2 separate regions of the Homo sapiens genome follow, and region 2 is linked to region 1. The links come from fine-mapping of genetic effects on gene expression. A gene starts in region 1. The other region holds a variant in brackets. All regions are shown on one strand. Distances are between the middles of the regions. Region 1 holds the start of NRARP (NOTCH regulated ankyrin repeat protein). Region 2 overlaps EXD3 (exonuclease 3'-5' domain containing 3).

What was found. PIP is the estimated chance that this variant, and not a neighbour inherited with it, causes the effect. A credible set is the group of variants that fine-mapping cannot tell apart.
Region 2: its variant is the best candidate, but not a certain one, in a credible set for the expression of NRARP in lymphoblastoid cells (GTEx, PIP 0.69).

The regions. Positions count from the first base shown.
Region 1 is chr9:137,299,276-137,304,643 of GRCh38, forward strand. It overlaps NRARP (NOTCH regulated ankyrin repeat protein), which reads right to left and starts at 2,996. Exons shown (of 1, transcript NM_001004354.3): 1 at 356-2,996. The coding sequence starts at 2,653. The coding sequence ends at 2,309. RefSeq lists enhancers at 1-495, 2,295-3,213 and silencers at 1,854-1,903, 2,024-2,083, 2,154-2,233, 2,916-3,555.
Region 2 is chr9:137,397,478-137,402,845 of GRCh38, forward strand. All of the region lies in intron 1 of EXD3 (exonuclease 3'-5' domain containing 3), which reads right to left. Among named protein-coding and RNA genes, the nearest start is that of EXD3, 23 kb to the right of the region's middle. The variant T/C (reference allele first, on the strand shown) is at 3,029.

The DNA of each region.
Region 1 (5,368 bases):
CAAGATACACTTTCTGTGCAGCAGGCAGCCTCCAGCATGACCCCCTAGCGGGTCAGAGTGGGCAGGGCTTCAGGCCGAACTCTCCTCTCCAGCGGAGGTCTCAGCTGCTTTGCTGGGGAACAGAGCAGAGGCTGTGACACCAGCTCTGGGCACGCTGGAGGTGCTGGGTCCTCGTGAGTCCTGTGTGCAGCCGGGTTGGGCTTGGCCGTTGCGTGGGGCTGGGAGCGAGTTTACCAGGCTCTGTCTTCAGACAAATACAAGCCAAGCATTGTGCACCCAGCACCCACAAACCGTGTCACAGCCTGACCCTCGTCCCCAGAGAGGGTGTTCTGCAACTTGTGCCAAAGCCAAGAAGGACCAAGAAACTTTTTTTTAATATAAAAAGATCAATGAAAAATTTATTTATAAATTTTTCACGCTGGGCTACAGGTCAATATCGTACACTCAGGAATGTGCTGCACAAACTTTATCCAGTTAGCAGTGATCACCCCGTGACCCACACACAGCTTCGATATAAGCCTAGAAAGTCTTAACATTAATTAACATAATTAAAAAGGTATTTGCATCTAGAAAAAATATACAGAAGAACTCCTTGTGGAGTAATCTGTGCCTCCATTTCAATGTCTGCTTGTTTCACTGACATTATCAATATATTCTTCTCACACAAAGTTTTATAAAAAGCGACGGAGGGCTGCCCGAATACGACCAGCCACGCACAAAGGGCCTCCACCCACCTGTGTCCTCAAGTGCTCCCCATTTCTGCACGAAGGGTCAGCAGCACTTCCATGAAGGGGAAACCTCATTTAAATTTGAATAATTCAGCCTCCCTTTTATTTCTCAGGATCAAAACAACAAGGGGTGTGGGGCTGCATAGAAAATTGGAGCCACAGAAACCAGGAAGGGCGCCTTTCAGGACAGAAAGTGACGCAGGAGAACCTCCCCGGGCCCAGGTCTCGACGCAACCCCTCCCCCACGGCAGGATTTCGGGTTCGAATTGAGTCCTCGAAGCTCTGGGAGGCTAAAAAGGGGCAAAACGATCCTTCAATTAACTCAGCCATTAGCACAAGAGATTCACAGTCTTATAGGTATTTTATAAAAATATAAATATGGGTACACTCTGTTGCCTTCACAACGCTGGATACATCGCCCTTTAAAATTGGGTTTATAACCAAGATTCAAAAAATACACCTAAAACTTGGCTTAAAATATGTTAATATTTTATATTCTGTCATAAATGTTATGACATTTAATTGTGGCAAATCCATTTACTTTTTTTAAAAAAGTGTGCAACCGTTAACTATGATAGAACGCACTAGAAAAGGTAACGAACCTTCACCCACCCCCCCGTGTCCCCGCCACCCTCGAGCGCCAGCGAGCTTCCAGGATCCTGGGGAAACTGCAAAACAAGCCGGTTTGGGGGATGGTGGCCTCATCCAGGAGGGGCGGGGGAGAGAGGCCCTGGGGCTTCCAAAACTCACGGATTTGAGGGAGAGGGAGAAGGAGGGAGGGGGAACAGAACGGGGTGGGGAGGTAGACGCGGGGAGAAGGGAAGGGGGAGGGACAGCACGGGAACACCATCAGGCTGGGCGGTATTTTCAGTGCAACCAAGAAATGGTAGACTCAAGTTTTTAGTTTTAAGACTAGAAAAAAATGCATCACTCCCCCCCATAACCACATTGACCACGCAGTGTTTTCCAAACAAAAAAACCAGGCGCACAAACTCCACCCACAAATGTACACACACAAGATAAATAGTTTAGAACACCAGCAACAGCGAACAGCCGAGCGTCTCCTCGGCCGCGCGCCAGCGGCGCGGACCTCGGACCTCGGGGCTGCTCCTCGGCTGCAGCCGGCATCGGCGCGTCCCGGGCCTGCGGGCGGGTCCTGAAGGCGGCGGCGGAGCGCTCCGAGTCCGCCTTCGGCTCCCGCCGCCCGCCTTTCACCTTCGGGAGAAAACATTTTGCGCAGAGGATCCGGTATCTCGGGATTCCGAACTTGCTGGTTGCGAGACTCAAATTTCAAAAGGGGCTGGAGCCCGCGCCCCGCCCCCACCCGCGAGGCGGCGGGCAGGCGAGCGGGTGGGGGCCGTGGGAAGCTGCTCCGGCCCGGCCGGGCCCGGCTAGGCCGCAGGGAGGCGCTCGGCCGGCGGGGCTGCCGGACCCTGGGGCCGGGACGCACGCGCCGTATTCGCCGTGGCCACGGGCCTTCTGGCGGGGCCTGCGAGCCGGGCGCGCACCGAGGTAGTTGGCGGGAAGGTACAGCAGAGACGACGCGGGCGCAGGGCCGGGGTCCGGGGTCCCGGCGGGCATCACCGGCCGCTGGCCGCGTACTTCGCCTTGGTGATGAGATAGAGCACGATGTCCTGGTGGCCACCGAACGCGGCGATGTGCAGCGCGCTCCAGCCGTCGCGGTTGGCCAGGCGGATGTCGGCGCCGAACTTGACCAGCAGCTTCACGAGCTCCAGGTTGCCGTCGATGACCGACTGGTGCAGCGCCGTCTGGCCCTCGGGCCCGAACGAGTTCACGTTGAACTCGCAGTTGGTCATGTTCTGCAGCAGCGACTGCAGCTCCTGCGTGTTGCCCTTGCGCACAGCCTCCTGGAAGATGCGCTGCGTCTGCGGCGCGGAGCAGGTGGACAGCTCGGCCTGGCTCATGCTGCCGCCGGGCGCGGGCCGCGGGCCGGGCCGGGGCTCAGCGCGGGCGGCGGCTGCGGCGCGGGCCCCCGGCTGTCTCGGGGCGCGCCTCGGCGCATGGAGGGCGCGGCGTCCCCGGGCCCCGCACGCCGCCTCTGGGCGCTCCGGGCGCTCGGGGCCGGGGGTCGCCGCCGCGGGGACCCCGCCGCATCCAGCCGCGCCCGGGTGGGCGACGGGGGCGCGCGCTCGGCTCGCGGGGGCCGGGCCCGGCCGGGGACGGCGGCGCCGCGCGGTCCCGGTCCCTACTCGGTTCGGCTGCGGCTCCCACGCGGTCCCAAGGCGCCTCCCCACGCGCCGCAGCACTAGCTCGCCCGCCGCGCCGGGGCGCCTTTTACCTTCTTTATATTTGCATAACAATGGCAGCCCGTGACGCGCGCGCCGGCGGCCCCGGGATTGGGCCGCGCCCACATGGGGGCGGGGCGTGGGCGGTGCCGTGCGCAGGGGTCCGGGGGCGGGTCCCGGCGGCGGCGCGCTTCGCGGCAGGGGGCGCTGGTCGCCGGCAGCGCCTGGGCGGGGGAGGCCAGGTGGCCGCCGGGGGGGTCCAGCTCCGTCGCCGCCGCCGTCCGCGCGCCCCCCGGGCGCTCCGCGTCTCTTTGCGGTCGTCCCGCCCCTTCTCCCTCCGGCCACCCGGGGAATTCCAAGCTCCCTCAGCAGCCAGACCCAGGCCTTGCCCGGTACCCGAGCGCGACCGCCAGGTGGCCCCGAGGGCGGCCTCTCCCGGGCAGGGGGTTCGCGGGCATCTCAGGCCCGTGGCGAAGGAGAGACCCCTCTGAGCGGAGAGGCGCGCGGCGACCCCGGCCAGCCCGCGCCTCCGGGCTCACCGTCCACGCGGGTGGCAACTCCAGGCCCTGACGTGGGGCCTTCAGCCACGCGGGTCCTTCCCGCGCGCGGGCAGCCTCATGGCCGCCGGCTCAGCCTATGTGTGCCCCAACCGTACTGATGCGAGGGGCCTCCGGCCGGCCACCGCGGCTTCTATCGCCTGGCGGTGAAGGGGGTTCCGCTGTCCTCTCGGGAGGAAGCCCCGGGCCGGGGCGCAGCGGGAGGGTCGGGACCGCGGCCTGCCTCCCTCTGCTGCCCACGCACCAGCATGCGGGACACATAGGTCCTGCCCAGGTGAGCAGGGCTAGGTGTGGCGCCAGGGCCAGAAGGGAATTCTGAAACGCCTGGCTTCCAAACTGTAAAACCCATTTTTATTGACCACTCTAACAATTGACCGGGAGGCACTAGCAGGGGAAGCACAGCGCATTTCCTCATTAGAGTTTTACAGTTTACAACTCGCTGTGGTCGTTGGAAATTAAGGAGGAGTGATTCTCAGGCGCGGAGCAGGAGGCCAGGCAGGCTGGGGCTTGAATTCCTTCTGAAGCCAAGCCGGGAATTCCGCGCAGGCAGCTCTGAGCTCGGGCTGGGGAGACCCCCATGCCAGGCCTTGTCTGAGGAGGCTTCCGCCCACCAGCTCCATGTCCCCACATCCGGCTCCCCACAGGGGTGTGTCCCCACCCCATGCTGTGCCCATACTGGCAGGAAAAACTGGGCAGGCTCCCTTCGGGACAGACCCTGGCTGACCGGAGCAGGGTCCTGAGGCCCTGGGGTCCTCCTGGTGGGCTGGGAACCTCTGTCCCTCAAAGGCACAGCTCAGAGCTCGCTCTGGTCTTCCTGGGGCCGTGATCCCGCTGGTTCTGTTCAGCTCTCTCCTTTGGGCCTCACTGCTTCTCCCAGGAGCTCTCAAGGGGGCCACGGAGGGTGGAGGGGTGCTCCCCAATATGCAGGTGAGGACACAGTGGAGTCCCGGAGTAGGCCCCCAGCAGAACAGAGATGGGCGCTGTGGAGCCCAGGCCCGGGGCAGGGATGGCATGGCCTGGCCTGCCGTGCTCTGCTGGGCACCTTTGGCCTCTTAAGGAGGGGGAGCCGCTGGGCTGCCTGCTGGTCCCTGGTGCTGGCTGTGTCTCTGGACCTCAGACCAGGGCTGGGTGTGCAGGGTGCTCTGAGCTCACTGTCAGGAGGGCAGGAGCTCTGTCCTGGGCATTGATGGATTTTGTGCATATGCCCAGGGCCCAGCCAGGCTAGACTGGCAAGAGGCAGAGGGCATGACTGGGGGGTGGGCAGAGCCCTTGGTGCTCAACAGGCACAGGGCCTCCCCTGGAGGGTGGGTGGTTTGCAAACAGGCCGAAGCCCAGGTGGGCTCAAGCCGGGCCTGGAGAAGGCATTTGGCTATGCTGTGGGCCAGGAGCAGGGCCTGGGAGAAAGTGCCGTCGGCATCCGTGGCGGCGGCAAACAAAGGGGCCCTGTGTGAGCTCGGTGTGGGAACGCGGGGCCCCGCCACGGGCGTGAAATCGGCAGCGGCCCCTGGCGAGGGCCAGGCGGTGCGGGCGCCCCGGCAGGCACAGTGAGGCTGGTGTGGCGGCCCTGCAGGGCGGGAACCTACCCCCTGCCCGGGGTCCAGAGCGGGGTCAGGCAGAGGTGGTGGGGCCTGCCACGGCAGTGTGGCTGTGGCCCAAGGCAGGTACCCAGGCTCATCTGTGGGACTCAGAGGCTGGCCACACCACACTGCCCACAGGGAGTTCGCTGAGTGGCCCTGGCTCCTGCTCCTCCACCGTGGCTCCCAGCTCCCCTGGGCACACCCACGGCCCTGAAGCTGCTCCATTTGAGGATGGGAAGGGGGGAGGGGCCGGGGGGGCA
Region 2 (5,368 bases), 98 kb after region 1:
TAATTCACGAAACTCAGCACGTAATAAAAATCACAAGACCTAAAAAGAAACAAGGAAATATGACCCATAAACAAGTGGAAAAACACAAAAAACAGAGAACAGAAAGCAACTTCGAGGAAGGCCTCAAAGTTATTGGTGTTAGCAAAGACTTTAACACAACGATTTCAACTGCGTTCACAGAATGAACAGAAAACATGTTCAAACAGTTCAAGGAGGCCGAGTGCAGTGTGGGAGGCTGAGGCGGGAGGATCACTTGAGCCCAGGAGTTTGAGACCATCCTAGGCAACATGGTCAAACTGTACAAAAAAATTAAAAAGTAGCCGGGTGTGGTGGCTCACGCCTTTGGTTCCAGCTACTCAGCAAGCGGAGGCAGAAGAGTCGCTGGAAGCCCAGAGATCAAGGCTGCAGTGAGCCGAGATCGCACCACTGCCTTCCAACCTGCATGACAGAGCGAGACCCTGTCTCAAGAAAACCCCAAAAAACCATGAATAAAGTTAAAAAATATGGTTTTAATGAGTAAAAGGAGAGAAATGAAGATTATATGAAACTACATAAAAGAGCTAAATGGAAACTCGGCAATAAAAAGTGTCATCACTGAAATGTGTTTGACTCAGTGGCTGTGCTTCACAGCAGGTGGATGGCAGATGAGTCAGTGAATCTGAAAACAGATCAAAGAAGGACCAGATTGAAAGAACGAGGGGGAAAGACAGAAGGAACTGTGGCTCCACGGTCCACAGCCGGGCGCCCTCTGTTCCCCTGGTGAACGGCCCCGTCTGCAGCACTGCACGCCTGGCTCTGGGGTTCACACGCTTTGTGGAGACACCCATTCCCCAGCCTCTGCCTGCCTCCGTCTGGATGGCTGCACTGCAGCCCTGCTCACCCTGGACCCCCTTCCCTCTTGTCCCCTGTGCTCCCCGAAGTTCACCTCCTAGTTCTAAGGGAGCACCTTTTCCAGGAGCACCTCAGGCAGAACCGCAAGGGAGGAGCACTGAGTAGCCCTTTGCTTGTCTGAGAACGTCCCCATGACACATGTGCACCCATGTCCCCAAGACACACAGGCAACCGCGTCCCCAAGACACACAGGCAACCGCGTCCCCAAGACACACAGGCAACCGCGTCCCCAAGACACACTGGCACCCGCGTCCCCAAGACACACAGGCACCCGCGTCCCCAAGACACACAGGCGACCGCGTCCCCAAGACACACAGGCACCCACGTCCCCGTGACACACGTGCACCCGCATCCCCAAGACACACAGGCACCCGCGTCCCCGAGACACACAGGCACCCGCGTCCCCGTGACACACAGGCACCCGCGTCCCCGTGACACACAGGCACCCGCGTCCCCGTGACACACGTGCACCCGCATCCCCAAGACACACAGGCACCCGCGTCCCCGTGACACACATGCACCCGCGTCCCCAAGACACACAGGCAACCGCGTCTCCGTGACACATGTGCACCCGCGTCCCCAAGACACATCCCCAAGACACACAGGCAACCATGTCCCCGTGACACGCGTCCAACATCCTCGTAACACGTGCACACCGACATCCCCGTGACATACACAGACTGTCCCTGTGGCACAGGCGCATCCACGTCCCCATGACACACGCACACTGCACCTCCACTGGAAGCCTGGCTGTGCGTGGCTGTGGGGCAGGGGTCATTCTCCTGACGGTCATGGTAACGCCCCTCTACTGTCTTCTAGCCTCAGGGGTTGCTGAGAAATCTGATGCCCCCTGACTCGAGTGCCAGCATCTTCTGGGGAGACCCCGGGGCCGTGGCCGGATCCCAGCAGGACGGACATGGTGTGGTCCCCTGGGGGCTCCGTGGCCACCCTTCTGCATGTGGCTTCCCGATGGTGTCCTGCCCTCCACGCCCTCAGTTCTGTCCTCAGGAACTCCTGCTGTTTAGAACTTACACTTCCTGAGAATTACTTTGTCTTCTCATCTTTCCTTCTCTGCCTTTTTGGGAGATTTCCTGAACTTTATTTTGCAACCCTCTCACTGAAAGGTTCATTTCTGCTATCACAAATTTAATACTATCCACGAGTTCTGGTTTTCTGAAGCTTTTTACAAGGGTCTCCTCTCTTATTCCTGGCTTCTCTTCCTAACCCCCATATTAGTTCATTTTCACGCTGCTGATAAAGACATACCTGAAACTGGGAACAAAAAGAGGTTTAATTGGACTTATGGTTCCACATGGCTGGGGAGGCTTCAGAATCATGGTGGGAGGCGAAAGGCGCTTCTTACATGGTGGTGGCAAGAGAAAATGAGAGCCGGGTACAGTGGCTCACTCCTGTAATGCCAGCACTTTGGGAGGCTGAGGCGGGCAGTTCACCTGAGGTCAGGAGTTCATGACCAGCCTGCCAACATGGCGAAACCCTGTCTTTACTAAAAATACAAAAAGCAGCCAGGCGTGGTGGTGGTGCCTCCCAGGTACTCAGGAGGCGGAGAAAGGCGAATCACTTGAACCTGGGAACAGGGGTTGCAGTGAGCTGAGACTGCACCATTGCACTCCAGCCTGGGTGACAGAGCAGAACTCCATCTCAAAAAAAAAAAAAAAAAAAGAAAATGAGGAAGAAGCAAAAGAGGAAACCTCTGATAAACCCGTCAGATCTCATGAGACTTACTCACTATCAGAAGAATAGCATGGGAAAAACTGGCCCCCATGATGTAATTACTCCCCCTGGGTCCCTCCCATAACGTGGGAATTCTGGGAGATACAATTCGGGTTGAGATTTGGGTGGGGACACAGCCAAACCACATCATTCCGTCCCGGCCCCTCCAAATCTCACGTCCTCACATTTCAAAACCAATCATGCCTTCCCAACAGTCCCTCAAAGTCTCAACTGATTTCAGCATTAACCCAAAAGTCCACAGTCCAAAGTCTGATCTGAGACAAGGCAAGTCTCTTCCGCCTATGAGCCTGTAAAATCAAAAGCAAGTTAGTTACTTCCTAGATACAATGGGGGTACAGGTATTCAGTACATACAGCCATTCTGGGCCGGGCATGGTGGCTCATTC[T/C]TATAATCCCAGCACTTTGGGAGGCCGAGGAGGGTGGATCACCTGAGGTCGGGAGTTTGAGACCAGCCTGACCAACATGGAGAAACCCTGTCTCTACTACAAATACAAAATTAGCCGGGCGTGGTGGCACCCACCTATAGTCCCAGCTACTTGGGAGGCTGAGGCAGGAGAATCACTCGAACCTGGGAGGTGGAGGTTGCAATGAGCCGAGATCGCGCCATTGCACTCCAGCCTGGGCAACAGAGCGAGACTCCATCTCAAAAAAAAAAAAAAGTTCCAAATGGGAGAAATTGGACAAAACAAAGGGATTACAGGGCCCACGCAAGTCTGAAATCCAGAAGGGCAGTCAAATTTTAAAGCTCCAAAATGATCTCCTTTGACTCCAGGTCTCACATCCAGGTCATGCTGATGCAAGAGGTGGGTTCCCATGGTCTTGGGCAGCTCCACCCCTGTGACTCTGCATGGTACAGCCTCCCTCCCAGCTGCTTTCACAGGTGGTGTTGAGTGTCTGCTGCTTTTCCAGGCACATGGTGCAGGCTGTCGGTGGATCTACCATTCTGGCATCTGGATGACAGTGGCCTGCTTCTCACAGTCCCACTAGGCAGTGTCCCAGTAGGGACTCTGTGTGGGGGCTCCCACCCATTTCCTTTTTTTTTTTTTTTTTTTGAGATGGTGTCTCACTCTGTTGCCCAGGCTGGAGTGCAGTGGCGCGATCTCAGCTCACTGCAAGCTCCACCTCCCGGGTTCACACCATTCTCCTGCCTCAGCCTCCCAAGTAGCTGGGACAACAGATGCCCGCCACCACACCCGACTAAATATTTTTGTATTTTTAGTAGAGACGGGGTTTCACCGTGTTAGCCAGGATGGTCTTGATCTCCTGACCTTGTGATCTGCCTGCCTCGGCCTCCCAAAGTGCTGGGATTACAGGTGTGAGCCACCGTGCCCGGCCCCCACCCATTTCCCTTCTGCACTGCCCTAGCAGAGGTTCTCCATGAGGGCCCCGCCCCACAGCAAACTTTTGCCTGGACATTTAGGCATTTCCAAACATCTTCTGAAATGTAGGCAGAGGTTCCCAAACCTCATTTCCTGACTTCTGTGGACCCACAAGCTCAACACCACGTGGAAGCTGCCAAGGCTTGGGGCTTCCACCCTCTGAAGCCACAGCCCGAGCTCTATGTTGGCCTCTTTCAGCCACGGCTGGAGTGTCTGGGACATGGGGCACCAAGTCCCTAGACTGCACACAGCACAGGGACCCTGGGCCCAGCCCACAAAACCACTTTTTCCTCCCGGGCCTCCAGGCCTATGATGGGAGGGGCTGCCATGAAGGTCTCTGACATGACCTGGAGACATTTTCCCCATGGTCTTGGGGATGAACATTAGCCTCCTTGCTACTTATGTAAATTTCTGCAGCCGGCTTGAATTTCTCCTGAAAAAATTGGTTTTTCTTTTCTACTGCGTCAGGTTGCACATTTTCTGAATTTTTATGCTGTTTCCCTTTTTAAACATAATTCTTTTTTAGTTTTGTTTTTGAGATGGAGTCTTGCTCCGTCACCAGACTGGAGTGCAGTGGTGTGATCTCGGCTCACTGCAACCTCTGCCTTTCTGGTTCAAGTGATTCTCTTGCCTCAGCCTCCTGAGTAGCTGGGATTACAGGTGCGTGCCACCACGCCCGGCTAATTTTTGTATTTTTAGTAGAGATGTGGTTTCACCATATTGGTCAGGCCGGTCTTGAACTCCTGACCTCGTGATCCGCCCGTCTCAGCCTCCCAAAGTGTGGGGATTACAGGTGTGAGCCATTGTGCCTGGTCCCAGAATGCTTTTAACAGCATCCAAGTCAGCTTTTGAATGCTTTGCTGCTTAGAGATTTCTTCCACCAGATACCCTAAATCATCTCTCTCTCAAGGTCAAAGTTCCATAAATCTCTAGGACAGGCACAAAATGCTGCCAGTCTCTTTGCTAAAAGATAACAAGAGTCACCTTTGCTTCAGTTCTCAACAAGTTCCCCATCTCCATTTGAGACCATCTCAGCCTGGACATTATTGTTCATAACACTATCAGCATTTTTGTCAAAGCTATTCAACAAGTCTCTAGGAGGTTCCAAACCTTCCCACATCTTCTTGTCTTCTGAGCCCTCCAAACTGTTCCAACCTCTGCCTGTTACCCAGTTCCAAGTCGCTTCCACATTTTTGGGTATCTTTTCAGCAATACCCCACTCCACTGGTACCAATTTACTGCGTTAGCCCGTTTTCACGCTGCTGATAAACACATACCTGAGACTCAGAACAAAAACAAGTTTAATTGGACTCACATTTCCACATGGCTGGGGAGGCCTCAGAATCA